2 separate regions of the Homo sapiens genome follow, and region 1 is linked to region 2. The links come from fine-mapping of genetic effects on gene expression. A gene starts in region 2. The other region holds a variant in brackets. All regions are shown on one strand. Distances are between the middles of the regions. Region 1 overlaps PIK3CB (phosphatidylinositol-4,5-bisphosphate 3-kinase catalytic subunit beta). Region 2 holds the start of PIK3CB (phosphatidylinositol-4,5-bisphosphate 3-kinase catalytic subunit beta).

What was found. PIP is the estimated chance that this variant, and not a neighbour inherited with it, causes the effect.
Region 1: its variant is fine-mapped to the expression of PIK3CB in whole blood (TOPMed, PIP above 0.99).

Annotation. Positions count from the first base shown.
Region 1 is chr3:138,670,633-138,675,632 of GRCh38, forward strand. The region is part of intron 19 of PIK3CB (phosphatidylinositol-4,5-bisphosphate 3-kinase catalytic subunit beta); the gene reads right to left. Among named protein-coding and RNA genes, the nearest start is that of FAIM, 64 kb to the left of the region's middle. The variant A/G (reference allele first, on the strand shown) is at 2,311.
Region 2 is chr3:138,831,651-138,837,180 of GRCh38, forward strand. PIK3CB (phosphatidylinositol-4,5-bisphosphate 3-kinase catalytic subunit beta) reads right to left here and starts at 3,278. Exons shown (of 24, transcript NM_006219.3): 1 at 3,045-3,278. RefSeq lists a silencer at 2,775-3,514.

The DNA.
Region 1 (5,000 bases), 160 kb before region 2:
TCCAACTGGGTTTATGGTCCTCAAGCAGACAGTTTATTCTAATGACCTATTCCTCTTATCTATGCAGTATACCTTATGAGTGTTTGAAAAACTAGCTACCTATTCAAAGCTACTAATTCTATTTTTACACAGCTGCATTAGAAATTCCTCCTAATTTAAAAGAAAAAAATCTGTCACCTGTAGTAGCCACAGTGTCCTTTTTAGATGAATTATGATCTCTTTTCTTTATTCTAATCACAGCTACAATCCCAAATTGCTCTTTCTACCTTTACACTACTGGAAAGTGTAACTTGGAAAAACCTAAAAATAAAAAATTATTTCTTTTTTTAAAAAAAAGGAAATTTAGGTATTTTAGGCACCATTATACTCTGATAAACAAAGAGTAGTACTAGACATGTCTTACCACATTATTTTCTCACTTAGCCAGACTGGTAAAATAATAAACAGGCATTAATTTAGAGTCTGACAGTCCTGGATTTGAATTTAGCTCTGCCATTTAATATTTCTGTAACCTTTGTTTAAAACCTCTAGCATTTTAATTTTTAATGTGTTAAAAAGAAATAACATAGCCCCATAGATATGTAAGCCTATACGATATTACTTACGAGAAGAACTTAATACAATGCCTGGTTCAGTCAATAAACAGCAAGGGTTGCAAGTTTTAAAAATATATATACACATATGTTTCATAATAACAGACTATAACTGAAACTTAAGAAATTAATCAGGAGATATTATAATCTTGCAGGAACAAAGTCGATCACACGTCTAACCGTTTCCAGCAACCTTGTAGACTAAGGTTGTTGCAGATACTAAATCACATTAAAAAAATGATGAAGTCCAAAGGTTTTATAAATAGGTGTGGTTAAAAAAGAAAGAAAAAAAGACCTCTAGGTTCCAAAAATAGAGATTTCTCACAGCAGTGGCTCAGGAAGTTAGACTTGGCTGACATTTCAATGCCCACCAAAAACAGTCACGGACTTAGGCCCATGAGGTAGGATCTGGACCCGACAAAGAACTGTTAGGAATAACACTCAAAATCCTAAGGAAACTGAACACTTGAACAAAGGATTCTTAGCAAAGCAATTTTACTTCTGCGTAGAGGGGTGCCTCCTTGGCCAGTTGCCATGAGAGCACACCTGAACAAAGGGGCACGACAGCCTTTATTCCTGACGCAAGTCCTGCCTCTGCATTCTTTCCCCATTGGCTGGGGTTGGGTTGTACAATCTAAACTAATCCTGGTTGGCTAAACATCTGAATTTTTTTAGATAGGGTGGGCACATGAAGAAAAAGTGGAGAGAAAGGGGAAGGGGTGTCTGTAATGAGCTAGAAAGTTAGTCCTCTTTCTAAATAAGGAAAGGAATGTGAGCTGGTACTGATAACGCTTGGTACTGTGGTGTGCCTGGGGATCTAACAAAGGCAAAAAGGAAAAAAAAGGAGAAAAAGGAGAAAAAAAGTGGGGGGGTTCTATAAATTAACGAACAAAAGATTGATCAGATTATTTGAAGAGGAACCTCATCATATCCCACACTACACAAAACTGAGGTCTGGGAGGACTGGAACTCGAAATATCTTTTCATTGATCAGATGATGTGGCATGAAAGTTTCCCATCTACCCCAGAAACTGGGTAGGCAAGAAAAAAAAAAAGTTTCATGTAAGTGCAAAACTTCAAGCCTTCCCACACTCTCTTATGAGATCTAAATATAAACTATCTATGAGGTGTGATGGTCTGAAGGCAGGGAGTTAACATAAAAACTGGCTGATTGTGTGTACAGGCCTTTGGCAACAGCTCAAACAAAATACAAACTCATTTTTAGAGATCCATTCACAACCCAGGGAGCAAAGGACCTTTACAGAAAACATAATTATCCATCAATAATGAATTCAAAACTGAGTATTATTAACTATATAAGGAAATGAATAAAGTCACGCAGATAAATGAAAAAGTAATATCCCAAGAACTAAAAAAGAACAATCTGAAAGAGACTTTAGGCTGGGCGTGGTGGCTCACGCCTGTAATCCCAGCACTTTGACCTGGGAGATGGAGCCAGGCGGATCACCTGAGGTCAACAGTTCAAGACCAGCCTGGCCAACATGGTGAAACCCTGCCTCTACTAAAAATACAAAAATTAGCCGGGCGTGGTGGTGGGTTCCTGTAATCCCAGCTACTGGGGAGGCTGAGGCAGGAGAATCGCTTGAACCTGGGAGGTGGAGATTGCAGTTAGCCAAGATCGTGCCACTGCACTCCAGCCTGGGTGACAGAGTGAGACTCCGTTGAAAAAAAAAAAAAAAAAAAAGAGAGAGAGAGA[A/G]AGAGATGAAAAAGAATAGAAAGTCTAAGCAGAAAAAAAATACAATACAGGAGAGTAAACATTGTTGCAGAGATAATGAACTGGAAAAGAATAGGAAATTACTAAGAAAGTCACATAAAGATATGAAAAGACTCAGCCTGGTCTCAACGCCAGAGCACACAGAGACTTGAGTAAAACTGTTATAATGATAAGATATGAAAAGATAGAAAATATGGAAGGTTAAGAGACATAAAGGAGAGAACAGGAAAGTTTAATATAAATCTACTAGAGCTGCAGAAAAAGACAATGAGAGTGGGAGAACTGCAATACTGAAGGAAATGTTCAAAGTTTTCAGAAACTAAAAGATGTGACTTCTTTGAAAAGGCACAATGAAAATGGTGATAAAAAAAAGAAATAAAAGAAATACACACGCACAGATTGTACTGCAGACAAAGGCAAAGAGAAACTTTTTGATGCACTAAGGTGTAAAAAAGACATTACTTACAAAGAACCGATAACCAGACCGAGAACAGACTTTTTAAAAACCGAGACTAGAAGACAAATGAATAATATCCTCAAGGCTTCTGAGGAAAGCAGTCAATTTGGATTTCAAACTTCTATAGCCAAATGATATCAAACTCTGAATATCTACTTCTCCATAAAAGCAACAAGAATACTGACAAAAATTGTTGAAATCAACTATTTTAGAGTTCTGAAAATAAAACAAAGGCTTGCAGCAATCCAATAAGTGTTTATTTAAAACACACACACACGTACACACACACATACACACACACACACCCCAACGTGAATCTGTTTTGTTTTACCATGGCCTAGTCCCAACCCCCTTCCCAGTTATGTGGTAGCCTTGACAACAAATAGCCCACAATCATGGTGAATGCATGTCTGACAGCCACTAGAGGAAAGAAAAATGAAGTTGGAGCTCCTTCAAAGCCTGATTCCCACAGAACTGTCATTCTTTGGCCTCTCTGGTAGTTTCCAGGAAGATCCCACTTACAATACTATGTTTATTTGACCTGACTCAGACCTCACCTAGCATGAACTGCCTTTTTCCTGGGGAGTTTCTCAAAAATACTCAGAGGCATCTGTTTAACATTGTAGCTGTCTTGGGGGTAAATAACAGTTGGGGGAACCAACAAGCTAACTGAAAGCTTAAAAGGAAAAGGTAGGTAATTACATGTCCATATGGTGCACTGAAAAGCTCCAAAATTACTGGTAGGAATCTAGAAGGCCGTGTGCATGGATACTATTGTGGATTCCCAGGTCTGTGTACATGCAAAGGAAAGAGCTTACAAAGCCCTGGCTCTCAACTATGGCTAACTTTGAGGCTTTGTGAAAGCAGAAAGTTAGGGCTAAGGCACAGTTCTGAACCACCAGGCTGACTGTTGAAGGCATGACCCAACATGTGCATAAAGTGCCTCAGCAGACTGGAAGAGGGGTGGATTCCAGGCATTTAAGAAAATCAGGTCAACCATTAGCTGACCAATAAACTAAGTAAAGACATCAGTGACCACACATGACAAAAAATATAAACTTTACATAATTAGTTCAAAAAAGTCACTAAAATAAACAAACAGCCACAACGACAAATCCTGAAGGGAGAAGGAATCTGAGTTTCAGAGTTGTAAAATTATTTAAAGTGAACAGTTTTTGGCAAAAAGTATGTGACATACAAAGAAACAAAAAAGCATGGCACACATACAGGAAAAATGCATTCAATGAAACCGTCCTTCAGGAAAATCAAATTTTCAACTTATTACACAAAGATTTAAAAATCCCTATTTTAAACATGTTCAAAGAACTAAAGGAAACCATGTTTAAAGAACTATAAGGTTGGGGGCGGTGGCTCACACCTGTAATCCCAGCACTTTGGGAGGCCAAGGCAGGTGGATCACCTGAGGTCAGGAGTTCAAGACCAGCCTGGCCAACGTGATGAAACCCTGTCTCCACTAAAAGTACAAAAATTAGCCAGGAGTTGTAGTGGCCGCTTGTCATTATCCCAGCTACTTGGGAGGCTGAGGTGGAGAATCGTTTGAACCTGGGAGGTGGAGGTGTCAGTGAGCCGAGACCGCGCCACTGCACTCCAGCCTGGGCGACAGCACAAGACCCTATCTCAAAACAAAACAAAACAAAACAACTGTGAGAATGATGTATCAACAAAGGAAGACTATCAATAGATAGATATTATTTAAATGAATCAAACAGAAATTCCAGAGTTGAAAAGGGCAATAACTGAAATTTTAAAATTCACCAGGTAGACACAACAGCAGATATGAGCATAATAAAAAATTGGCAAACTTGTGGATAGGTCAATTATCCAATCAGAGAAACAAAAGAAAAAATAATGAAGAAAAAAGAACAGAGCCTTAGAGACCTGTAGAACACCACCAAGCAAAGCAATAAATGCATAATGGCGTTTAAGAAGGAGATGAGAGAGAGAGGCAGAAAAAATATATGAAAAAATTATGGCTGGAAACTCCCCAAATTTTATGAAAAACAATAATATATATGTCCAGGATGCTCAATTAATTCAAAGTAGAATAAACTCTAATAGAAGTAGGCATATTATAATCGAACTGTCAAGAACCAAAAATAAAGAGAATCTTGAAAGGAACAAGAGAGATGTGACTCATCACTTACAAGGATCTTAAATAAGATTAACAGCTGATTTCTCATGAGAAACCAGGGAA
Region 2 (5,530 bases):
GCACAGTGGCTGACGCCTGTAATCCCAGCACTTTGGGAGGCCAAGGCGGGAGGAACACGAGGTCAAAAGACTGAGACCATCCTGGCCAATATGGTGAAACCCCATGTTTACTAAAAATACAAAAATTAGCGGGGCATGGTGGTGTGCACCTGTAGTCCCAACTAATTTGGAGGCTGAGGCAGGAGAATCGCTTGAACCCGGGAGGTCACAGTGAGCAGAGATCGTGCCATTGCACTCCAGCCTGGCGACAGAGAGAGACTCCATCTCAAAACAAACAAACAAACAAAACAGAGGCCCATAAGACTGGGTAACATCCCCATAGCCCCAGCTGTTTTTACCCAGGTTGAGGCCTAAAACCAAGAGGTGACTTCTGACTCCCAGCCTTTTCACAGTGGCTAGCAGTAGTTCTACTGTTGAGTTCAACAGTCTAAGCTAGACAACTGGGAAAACCTCAAGAAAGAACATAATTTAGACTACAGTGTTCATTTTTCACTTTTTTCCATATAGTTGGCTGACATTCACAAAGCAAGTTGAAGCAAAAGCCTTTATGGATGAGTCTTTAAGAACACCAAGAAAGATAGGCAAGAGGTGCAAAATGACAAATCAAAACCCGACTTGATTTTCAACACTTCTAAAAAACACTCCGAAGGTGGTGGACTCAGGGTGTGAATCAGGGGTGTAAATTAGATTTTTGCTTCTTAAGTCATTTTGGCTTTAGTGAATACAATTCCAGTTTAAACCTTTAAGATTTTTACTTTCGGCCGGTCGCGGTGGTTCATGCCTGTAATCCCAGCATTTTGGGAGGCCCAGGCTGGCGGATCATTTGAGCCCAGGAGATCAAGACCAGCCTGGCCAACATGGCAAAACCACCTCTCTACCAAAAATACAAAGATTGGGCCGGGCGCGGTGGCTTCCTCCTGTAATCCCAGCAGTTTGGGAGGCCGAGGCGGGCGGATACCTGAGGTTGGGAGTCCGAGACCACCCTGACCAACATGGAGAAACCCCGTCTCTACCAAAAAAAGTACAAAATTAGCCGCGTGTGGTGGCACATGCCTGTAATCCCAACTACTCGGGAGGCTATGGCAGGAGAATCGCTTGAACCCGGGAGGCGGAGGTTGCGGTGAGCTGGAGATCGCGTCATTGCACTCCAGCCTGGACAACAAAAGCGAAACTCCGTCTCAAAAAAAAAAAAAAAAAAACAAAATTGAAAGATTGGCCAGGCGTGGTGGCACGCCCCTGTAGTCTCAGCCACTAGGGAGCCTGAGGCAGGAGGATCGCTTGAACCCAGGAGGCGGAGGTTGCAGTGAGCCAAGATGGCGACATTGCACTCCAGCCTGGGCGACAGACCGAGACCCTGCCTCAAAAAACAACAATAATTTTTTTTTAAAAAAGAAGCAAGATTCGGTCTCAAAAAGATTTTTTTTTTTTCTTTTTGAGACAGGGTATCCCTCTGTTGCCCAGGCTGGAGTCCAGTGGTGCCATCTCGGCTCACTGCAACCTCCGCCTCCCGGGTTCAAGGGATTCTCCTGCCTCAGCCTCCCAAGTAGCTGGGATTACAAGCGCCCGCCACCACGCCCTGCTAATTTTTGTGTTTTTGGTAGAGACGGGGTTTCACCATGTTGCTTGGGCTGGTGTCGAACTCCTGGAATCAATTGATCCGCCCGCCTCGGCCTCCCAAAGTGCTGGGATTACAGGCGTGAGCCAACGCACCTGGTCAGAAAAAAGACTTTACTTTCTTCCATACCTGCATTCTGAAACTGGGTTAAGATCCTTATCTGACCACCCTTTCCTGTGCTACATTATTATGACTTAAACAGTTCTGCTTTTACCATAAAATCTTACAATGTAGCATAAAAATCCCCAAATGATTAATGAACTGCTGAGACCTCTGACTCGTTGGAGACAATTTTATTACGAATCATATCTCCAAACTTCCATTCAGTGCTTCAAAATAAGTACTCATTTAATTATCATGACTTCACCAGACAGTCACACTGCCCACAATGATGTTTACAAAAGCACTTGTCACTCCCTTTGGATGTAGCAATGCAGAAAAAAGAGTCTGTTTCCATACTCTTCGTGTGTTTATAACTCTGTAACAAGTGGCAGAGTTCAAGTGTCACTTGAGATGAAACAGCAAAGCACTTCAAGTTTACGTCCCACCATCTTTCATCCTAAGCGAATCCCGAATTTGCTCGGTTTCATTTCAGCAGTAATTCCCACTCAGTACCTGAGACAGGGTTCCAATTCAGCCCTGCGGGAAGAGACTGCAGGATTCTAGTAAGGGACTATAGGATTCTATTTTGGCCACTGCGAGGTTAACAGGCTCCAATATTAAGCAACTCCAGTATCGGTTACTGCAACACCAGAGCAGATCGGAAATAAATGTGCCCCCAAACGCACGCCAGCAGCCAGGAATTAGCAATAGCTAACACGAGATGCTGCAGCAGGGGTATCATTTACTTAGCACTTGTTCAGTTATGCCTAACCTCACAACAACCTTATGGTGTATGTATTATTATTTCCATTTAACACATCAGGATATTTTGGCCCAAGGCCCCAGGACTGGTCAGCAGCGGCGTTGGGATTCGAAAACATGTCCATAACCTAATAACCCTGGGTCCACGCCTCTGAAATACACTTCTGCGCAAAAAGGCACCTGAGGGTCGGGAAGTTCCGGAGGTGTCCGCATAGACGCGGGGCGCGAGTACGCCGTCTCTCCACAGAAACGCCCCTCAGGAACGGGACCCAAAGCGACAGTGACCCGGGACGCCCGGCAGCGTCTCTGCCGCCCAGGGGCCGGGGGGCGCCACTCACCTTGGAGAGCCCAGGGCGGGCCGCAACCAAGCCAGACGCCCCCACCGGCCGGTAGGCGGTTATCCTCCAAGCTGGCAGGAAGCGCGGTGCAACCACAAGAGTCGCCAGCGCCGCAGGTAGCGGCAAGCTAGAACGCACCGCCAGCACGCCCGGGGGCACCGCAGCCGGCGCCGCGACCCAGCCGCCCCTCAGCCGCGCCGCATCCGGGTCCCGGCCGCCGCACTCACCTGCCTGGCGTTCCGCCGCCGCCGCCTGCTACTATTCCAAGTGCGCAGTCAGCAGCCCAGGCCGCCGCAACCGCTCCACTCCGGCGCCCCCATCCCTGCCTCTCTCGATCACCTCCCGCCTGCCCCGCGCAGCACTACACTCGCCCCCTCCCCACTGCCATGGCCCGCTCCGCCGCAGCGCCGCACAGGCCGACAGAGCACGCGCGCGCCGCCGCCGAACCCGCGCCCGTGTGCGCGCGCGCCAGCCTCTCAGGCCTGCATCCCAGCAGCCCCCGCCCCGCCCTGCGCCGCCCTCGGGCCAATCCCGGGCCCCGCGGTGGCGGCGGCGGCGGCGGCGGCAGTTGGGCTGGCAGGGTGTGGGGAGAGGCCTCACTGCCGATTCCTCTACCGTTGCCAGCCCGGCTGCGACGCTGCTGCACGGCCTTTCCTAACTCTCTTTGCGACTCCCAGAGGACTGCGGAATAGGGAATCCCCGGCAAGTCGCCTTCAGGAGAGACCCATCACCCGCTGCGGCCTCCATAACCTCCTCCCGAGAGATTCCGCTCTTCCTAGGTTCCTTGCTGGCCTTTTCTTCCCAGCCCTTCTCCCTGTTCTGCGACATGGACTGACTCCTAAATTCTTGGACGCAGCACTTATTTTTTTCCCGATACCCGTCTCCGTCTTTCACTCCCTTTGTGAGGATAGGGCGCTAGCTCGGCTGCCTCACAGCTGGCCCTTCAGTCCCTACACTGTGAATGGTTGTTTCTAGGGAAAAGTCCAGGCTTTCAAGCCCAAGATTCTTGTTCTTTGTTCAATTTTGCAGTAACAACACCTAACATTTGTCTGCAGAGCCTTAAACTTTACCCCTTTTTGCCTACCTTGTTTCCTGTTACCTTTGACCCCAACCGCGAAAAATCACAGTCCTCTTTCTAGTGGGACACTTAAATTTTACTTACTGAAAACCAACATTTTAACTCACTCCAAAGCTAGTATATTCTAACGTAATGCTCCTATATTACCCTGGACAAATAGTTGAGTAGTCAGGGATAAAATCTAGAAGTACAACATAATAAAAAGCAAACGTGACAAATCAATTAAGTGACAAACCAATAGTTTATTTGAGAAATGATCCTAGTTTTTTTATTTTTTATTTATTTACTTATTTTGAATGAGAGTTTCGCTACTGTTGCCCAGGCTGGAGTGCAATGGCGCGATCTTGGCTCACCGCAACTCTGCGTCCCCCGGTCAAGCGATTCTCCTGCCTCAGCCTTCCTGAGGATTACAGGCATGCGCCACCACGCCTGGCTAATTTTGTATTTTTAGTAGAGACGGGGTTTCTCCACGTTGGTCAGGCTGGTCTCGAACTCCCGACCTCAGGTGATCAGCCCGCCTCGGCCTCCCAAAGGGCTGGGATTACAGACATGAGCCACCGTGCCCGGCCAATGATCCTGGTTTTAATTGACTTTCGATTTAAAGCAAGAACATTGAAAAATAAATTCCAGAAGAGGCTGTAATACCAACACTTTGGGAGGCCGAGGTGGGCAGATCACTTGAGCCCAGGAGTTCACACCTAGCCTGGGCAATATGGCGAGACTGACAAAAATGACGTGAGTGTGGTGATGTGCATCTGTTGTCCCAGCTACTTGGGAGACTGAGGTGGGAGGATAATATGAACCCAGGAAGTCGAGGGAAGTCGAGGCTGGTGTGAGTCGAGATAGCACGGTAGCACCACTGCACTCCAGCCCGGGAAATAGAGCAAGACCCTGTCTAGGAAAAAAAAAAAAAATCCAGAAGAATTAAAAAATATAAAAATTTACAAAACAGAAACTTAAGAGGAAAAAAAAATTTTTTTTTGAGACAGTCTCATTCTGTTGCCCAGGCTGGAGTGCAGTGGCACCATCTCAGCTCATGGCAACCTCCACCTCCCAGGTTCAAGCAGTTCTCTTGCCTCAACCTCCAGAGTAGCTGGGATTACAGGCACCCGCCACCACACACGCCTAATTTTTTTTTTCTTTTTTTGAGACGGAGTCTTGCTCTGTCGTCAGGCTGTAGTACAGTGGCACAATCTCGGCTCACTGCAACCTCCGCCTCCTGAATTCAAGGGATTCCCCTGCCTCAGCCTCCCAAGTAGCTGGGACTGCAGGCGCGCACCACCATGCCCGGCTAATTTTTTGTTTTTTAGTAGAGACGGGATTTCCCTGTGTTGGCCGGGATGGTCTCCATCTCTTGACTTCGTGATCTGCCCGCCTCAGCCTCCCAAAAGTGATGTGATTACTGGCCAATGAGGCAGAAATTTTAAGCAAGACAGGAAGCCCAGAACCATTATAGAAAAAAGAAAAATATTTGCCTACATAAATATTTTGAAGGTTTTGCATGACCTCACAGTGATAAGTTTTGAAAAAGAAAAAACACAATAAGTTGGGAATGATGGCTCACACCTGTAATCCCAACACTTTGGGAGGCCGAGGCGGGTGGATCACCTGAGGCCGGGAGTTTGAGACCAAGCC